2 linked regions of the Homo sapiens genome follow. Changing the gene in region 1 together with any one later gene gives a genetic interaction. Each region holds a gene or a part of one and is shown on either strand. Other genes may lie near its edges.

What was found. Genes that interact genetically often act in the same process or in processes that back each other up.
Region 2: changes in WDR70 (region 1) and PPIE together harm fitness more than expected from each alone (negative genetic interaction), as found in Homo sapiens cells (one large-scale study listed by BioGRID).

Annotation. Positions count from the first base shown.
Region 1 is NC_000005.10:37,718,318-37,721,817, reverse strand, and holds part of WDR70 (WD repeat-containing protein 70), read right to left. Parts: intron 704-3,500; coding exon 603-703; intron 1-602.
Region 2 is NC_000001.11:39,748,882-39,752,381, reverse strand, and holds part of PPIE (peptidyl-prolyl cis-trans isomerase E), read right to left. Parts: intron 3,480-3,500; coding exon 3,294-3,479; intron 1-3,293. UniProt on the Homo sapiens protein: Involved in pre-mRNA splicing as component of the spliceosome. Combines RNA-binding and PPIase activities.

The DNA.
Region 1 (3,500 bases):
CATATCCATCTTTGTGCCTAAGCAAAACGGAAATAACTGAGGAAATGACTGAACCTCTAGTTACGTTTTCAGACTTTTGAAATACAGTGGTATGCTTAAGTTTGAAACTTGGGTGGGCATGGGGGTGGAGGGGAAACGTATCTGTGCTGTCCCTTTCTGCGGACAGAGAATAATCTTGCCAAACATCCAAACTGCTAGAAGCCAAAAAAGAAAGAAGCAAAATGGACAAGCTGATTCCATTTCCTGTAAGTGGTTAGTTCCCTGCTTTGTTAAATCTCTTACATGTATCACTGCTAATGCCTCTGTCCAGGGTGGTATGCAAAGTGGGCAGAACGTTTTTCCCCCTTGCACTCAACATTTCAGCTAAACAACTGCAAATTCCCAGGAAACTTTCGCTTTGAATTCAGTGTGGATCAAGGGCAATATTCAAATCCTTTTTAAAGCACAATACCAGGAGTTTGAGGCTTTACTTTGTTCCAGCTGCATTTTCTAAATGGGTGGATCTCCATCAAAGTGGGAAATAAATAAAAGCGGGGGTGGGAGGGAAATCCCTCCCCCCAGTTGTTGTCATCCATCTAAAACAGGCAATACTTATGAAATACCTCTGACTCTTGTTGGGGTCGTAATAGACTTTAGCCAATCCATTTCCAGTTCCAACCATGATCTGGTTCAGCTTTGGATGCCACAGGCAGCGAACAACACTCTGCAAAGGAAAAGCGCAGTGGTTGACTAAAGAGGCCAGATAAAAATGGAAACAATCCTGCTGGTACTTTGATGGCTAGTCTACTATATCAAATATCATCCTGATGGTTTACCTCTAACTTTCAGACATTTTCTTTTAAACCATAAAGTTGTGTTCCTGAAGTAAAATTCCATTCCATCACTTATTATCTGGGTGATACTCCATAAAAATAAAAAAGATGTTCTCTTCCTGACATTATCTCCCTTTCTGGACAGCCCTGAAACCACAAAATTAGGTTTCCCAGGTCCATTACCACGTGAGGCTGGCATCATGGAATGCTAAATCCACATAACTCAGTTACACTTACCACTGAAGCGAATTTCATGCTCTTACACACATACAATATGTCCCTCTGGACAGCAGATTGAGACCAGGTGGTTATTGTTTTTAGTTCACAAAGATCCAAATCTCATAAAGCTTTTTCAGAAACAATGCACATTTGTAGGCATTTAATAATGTCTCCCTATCTATGAGATAAAACAGCAGGACAACAGCAGAAGTAAAACAGAGATACAGAATACAAAGACTTGACATTAACCTAAATGAAAAGCTGTTTAAGAGAAGGTTCACTGGAAGTTATGATCCTATGAATTCATTACTGGTAAGGAAAATAAGTGGTGCTCTGGGGCTGAAAAGAACCACAAGTTCTCAGTGAGAACTATAACCTGTTTTTAATTTTTGTCTGTGGTAAGAGGGCAGAGGTGGGAGGGATAGCGTGGACAGAATTAAAGGGAAAAAAGATGAAGCTAATGTTAGTAAACAGAAACCCCATGTACTAGGTTCTATAGAACTCACTCTGATAGAACAAGATATGAGTGGAAGCATTAATTCAATGTTTATTAATAATCTATCACTTGTCAAACTATATATAGGGACTAAAGGGGAAAAGGGTATGATTAGATATTAGCATTTTATAGTTCTAGTGGTAAAATGAAAATCATGACTACGTCTCCTAAATCTACTTTGGGCTGAATTTCTTTGGTTCCTTGTCTCTACTCATTCCACTCTTTTGTTAAGACAGAATATCTTGAAATCTCTCAGATCCTTTTTGATAGAACATTGATTCCCAGCTGGGCATGGTGGCACGCGCCTGTAGTCCGAGCTACTCAGGAGGCTGAGGCAGGAAGATTGCTTGAGCCTAGGAGTTTGAGGCTTCAGTGAGCTATGATTGTGCCACTGCATTCCAGCCTGGGTGACAGAGTGAGACTCTGTCTCTTAAAAAAAAAAAAAAGAAAGAAAGAAAGAAAGAAAAAAACAAAGAAATAAAAATTCTGACTCCCATGTGAATGGCAAAAAAATAGGCCAAAAAAAAATAGGTAAATGGCTGCAAACCCTTACCTGAGATTCCAGAGGAACTAAGGAGAAAGCTGAAAAGAGTCTACAAGACTTTTATTTAATTCATATCTGATTTAACAGACTTACTCTAGAAGAGTGGTTCTTAACCTATGTACCACTGAAGAGGAATGGGATATTGTACAGAGAAAATCAAATCAGAATGGCTGTGTTTTCCCCATCAGCTGGGGGGAAAATTAAGTTAAAGGGGCAGGTTTTCACAACTTTAGGCTTGCTTTCCACAATTTTTCTCAAATCTATGGTGCCTGCTACCCAGGCTAGCAAGTTCTAAAAGATGATAAAACAAATATAATAGTGAGTAAATATTAACAGAAAAACTTGAAAAAATAAGATATATTTAATTTGATAGTTTGGGTATTTTTTGGGGGGGGGGTTGTTGTTGCTTTGTACCTATGCTTGTAAAACCTAGTTTATAATGCATACATATAAAAGTCACATTTTCTCCTAATAAAATTGCTCCTGGTTGGGAAGATGTAATTAAGTATATCAATAGCTCATGGTCTACAAAGTGCAGCTTCTAGGTGCTCCACCACTGAGACTAATTTGAGATAGACCACTGGAAATTCCCAGATGGCCACAGCCAGGTATATGGAAACATAAGGAGAGTCACAAACATAACTTCATGAAGTCATGTTTATGAAACCCTATGTAGAAGAAATCCATCTGAGCCAAGACTCATCTCTTTTAGTCTTTGCTTAAATGTCATTGCTATCTAAACCACCCAATTTAAAACTGTGCCCCAGAACTCCCCTTAGTCTGCTTTTCTTTTTTTATAGCATGTATCATCTTTTAATATAATATATAACTTATTTATTAATGATGCTGATTGTCTGCCTTCCCCACTAGAACACATATTTCATGGGCAAAGATCTCAGTCAGTTTTGTTTGGCAACATATCCCAAGTGCCTAGATTAGTGTCTGGTGCTCAAAAAATGTTCACCAAAGGAATGAATTAAAAGCTACAGTTCACCCATGCCTAAATGGATTGCTTTGCTAGGTAGAGCTGGAGACAATTTTCAAATTAAAATCATTACTCCATGAGAAATAATTTGATTTCCTCATATCATTATTATACTCAGGTATCCTACAAATGTAGCAGGGTTAGATTCCTCCTAATGTGGTCCTAGAGAGAGAGAATGTACATGAATCACAGAATAATGAAAGCGGCTGTCAAAGGCTTTCAGAAATCTCAGCCACCCATAAATGGCCCAGGACAATATTAAGGGCACAGTATTAGAGTTATTTCTCTTTCTTGGTTCTCTAGAGGTCTGGCTCAGCAGTCTAAGATTACTAGTTCTCAAATATGTTTTCAAGTGAGCAGGGTGCAGAATTGGAAAAGATCCACAATGTAGGCCTGATAAATTCCAAGACATCCAGCCAAACAGGCAGTTTCCAGGGGCAGCAG
Region 2 (3,500 bases), on another chromosome or scaffold:
GGAAGAGGAGGAGGAAGAGTTTAGGGGAGAAGGCCAAGAGCTGTTTTAGACATGTAAAGTGTGAGATGCTCGTGGGATATCCAGTGAAGACAACAGGCAGGCAGTTGGACAGGAGTCTGGAGCTCAGGGAGCCATCAGCATGCAGATGCCAGTCTGCACAAACTTAACTCAGAGATACCGCTGAAAGCCCTGGGACCGGGTGTGACTGCTTAGGGCACTGCTTCTCAGTGGGGTTGGTGTCCTGTCCCTAGGAAACCTTTGGAAATCTGAATTTACTTTTTTTGAGATGGGGATCACTCTGTCACCCAGGCTGAGTACAGGAGTGCATCACAGCTCACTGTAGCCTCAATCTCTGGGGCACAAGCAATCCTCTCACCTCAACTCCCAAGCGGCTGAGACTACAGGCGTGCACCACCACACCTGGATAATTTTTTTATTCTTTTTTCAGTAGATATAGGGTCTCACTATGTTGCCCAGGCTGGTCTCGAACTCCTGAACTCACGTGATCCTCTGGCTTTGGGCTGCCACTTCAGACTCCCAAAGTGTTGGGATTACAGGCATGAGCCGCCGTGCCTGGCCTGAAAGTGTTTTTGACTGTCTGAAATATTGTGGGGGTGCTACTGGCATTTAGCAGGTGGGGGCCTGGAATGCTAGATGTTCTGCAATGTCTGGCACAATGAATTGTCTCATATCCTCTTGGCCCTTACAAACATCCTGCTAGAGGCTGGGCGCAGTGGCTAATGCTTGTAATCCCAGCACTCTGGGAGGCTGAAGTGGGAGGATCACTTGAAGCTAAGAGTTCCAGACTAGCCTGAGCAATATAATGAAACCCTGTCTCTACAAAAAACTTAAAAATTAGCCTGGCATTATGGATGGCGTGCACCTATAATCCCAGCTATTTGGGAGGCTGAGGCAGGACTGCTTGAGCTGGAGAGGTTGAGGCTGCAGTGAGCCGTCTTGCACCACTGCACTCCAGCCTGAGCAACAGAAAGAGACCCTGTCTCAAAAAAACAAAAACCAAACAACAACAAAACAACAAATATCCTGCCAGATATTGGTATAGGTAAAAAATGTGTTTACAGTTATCTGCACCTAAAACATAATTCCATTATACATATAAGCCCAAAGTTTTGGAGTGCTTTTGATTTTCCATGGAATCTTCTAGGAATGTAACTACTATGTAAATAAACAGATTATTCTTTACTTTGGACTCTAATCAACTTTATCTACCATTTCACAAAGCCGTATCACCAATAGCATCACTCCTAGTGGTATCCAGTTGACACTCCCGTCTGCATTTCTAACTGCTGCGTTTGAGTACAGGGGCAGACGCCTGAATAATTCACTTTGTGTTCTGACACAGCTGTGCTTAAGCATGTACATCTGGAAACATATTCGAGTATTATACAAATTCGTTTATTTCCTCTGATGTTCTTCCCTATTATAGTTACAGATGAATACTGATTTTTAAAATAACGATGTGGGTCAGTGGGCTATATCACCTACACATGTCAGTTCAGTATAGTAAAGAGGGGCCCTACAAACCACCAGTTAGAAAAACGGAGCACAGGGTAACAGGCTTCTGGAGAACCAAAGAATGGGCTCTGAGCCACTTCAGTGTTTAAGGGTCAGGAAAAGAAGGAGACAGCAAAGACAGAAAAAGCAGCCATCTAGGTAAAAGGAGACAAGAAGAGGCAGGAGTCCTGCCAGCCAAGTGAAGAAGGAGTCAAGGAGAACAGAGTTAGTACAGGCTGAGCATCCCAAATGTGAAAATCCAAAATCCAAAATGCCCCAAAATCTGAAACTTCACGAGCACTGATATGATACTCAAAGGAACTGCTCACTCGAGCATTTCAGATTTGAGATATTCAGATTTGGGATGCTCAACTGGTAAGTATAATGCAAATATTCCAAAATACAAAATACTTCTGGTCCCAAGCATTTCAGGAAAGGGACACTCAACCTGTAGTATGAAATGCTCCTGGGAGGTGGGATAACATCTGGGAGGTGGGATAAGATGATCGCCAAGAACTGGCTACTCGTATTTTTGGCAAGAGTGGTTTCAATGGCGAGATGGGACTAGAAGTCTGCCTAGAAGGGATTAGAGAAAACGCGAAGGCAGCAAGTCTGTACCATGTTTTCAAGAAGTTATGCTTTTACTTCTTGAAAAAAGATGGGGGACCAGGGGCATGGGTGATAGCTGGAGAGGGAACAAGAGTACAAGGATGAAGTTTGTTTTTTTTTTTCCGAGACGGAGTTTCGCTCTTGTTGCCCAGGCTGGAGTGCAATGGTGCGATCTTGGCTCATCACAACCTCCGCCTCCCAGGTTCAAGTGATTCTCCTGCCTCAGCCTTCCGAGCAGCTAGGATTACAGGCACGCGCCACCACGCCCGGCTAATTTTATATTTTTAGTAGAGATGGGGTTTCTCCATGTTAGTTAGGCTGGCCTCCAACTCCTGACCTCAGGTGATCCGCCTGCCTCTGCCTCCCAAAATGCTGGGATTACAGGACTAAGCCACTGCACCCGGCAACCGGATGAAGATTTTTTTTAAAGGTTGATAACTGCATGCTTTCATGCTAATGGACTGATCTAGCAGAGCAGGGGAAATGGATTACAAGAAGGGGACAACTTTAGAAGCCATGTTCCTAAGTAGAGGAGAGGGACAGGATCCAGTCCACAGGTGGAGAGGCTGGCCTAGGAGAGACAGCTCATCCCCTGTAATTGGAAGAAAGAGCATGCACGAGTGGAGAGATGCAGGAGGTGAAGCATTAGATGAGGTGGGAAGGTGATGATATGAGGGCTTCAGAAGTGAAGACGGGCATGGACACATCATCTCCGGTTGGGACTGAGCATCAAGTAGGGAAATCTGGTCAGGTTGGCAAGGGTCCCCTTAAGAACTATAGTTATAAATTTCAAGTGGGATTGTTCAGTACAATTCTGTGTTTTTTCTCTAGTTGCTGGGGGACTAACCACCGAGATTTTACTGAGTAAATCTGATGGTGAGGGCAGGGAGAGCAGTGGGGTTGAGAGCATAAGAGCCTGCAACAGCAGACCACAGAATCCAAGCGGGGCTAATAGGAATTGTGGACACGGTTGGGGGATGAACAGTACCTGAATGTCAACAAGCCAACTCCACCCTAGCAAGGCTGCATGGTTCTCCTATGTCTGGTGGCTGGGTCTCCTCCAGACTCTTAGTGTCCGCCAGCCAGAACTACAACCTGTCCTTCCATCCTGCCTGGCCATCCCACCCTTGCCCAGCCTCCCTCGTCACCACATGCCAACTGGCTCCTACCTGGTCCCGTATGCTTGAGGATAAAGTTTTCATCATCGAACTTCTTCCCATAGATGGACTTGCCCCCAGTGCCATTGTGGTTTGTGAAATCACCGCCCTGGCACATGAACTGGGGGATGATGCGGTGGAAGCTGCTTCCCTTAAAGCCAAAGCCCTTTTCATGAGTGCACAGGCAGCGGAAATTCTCTGGAATTGAGAAAGGAAAAA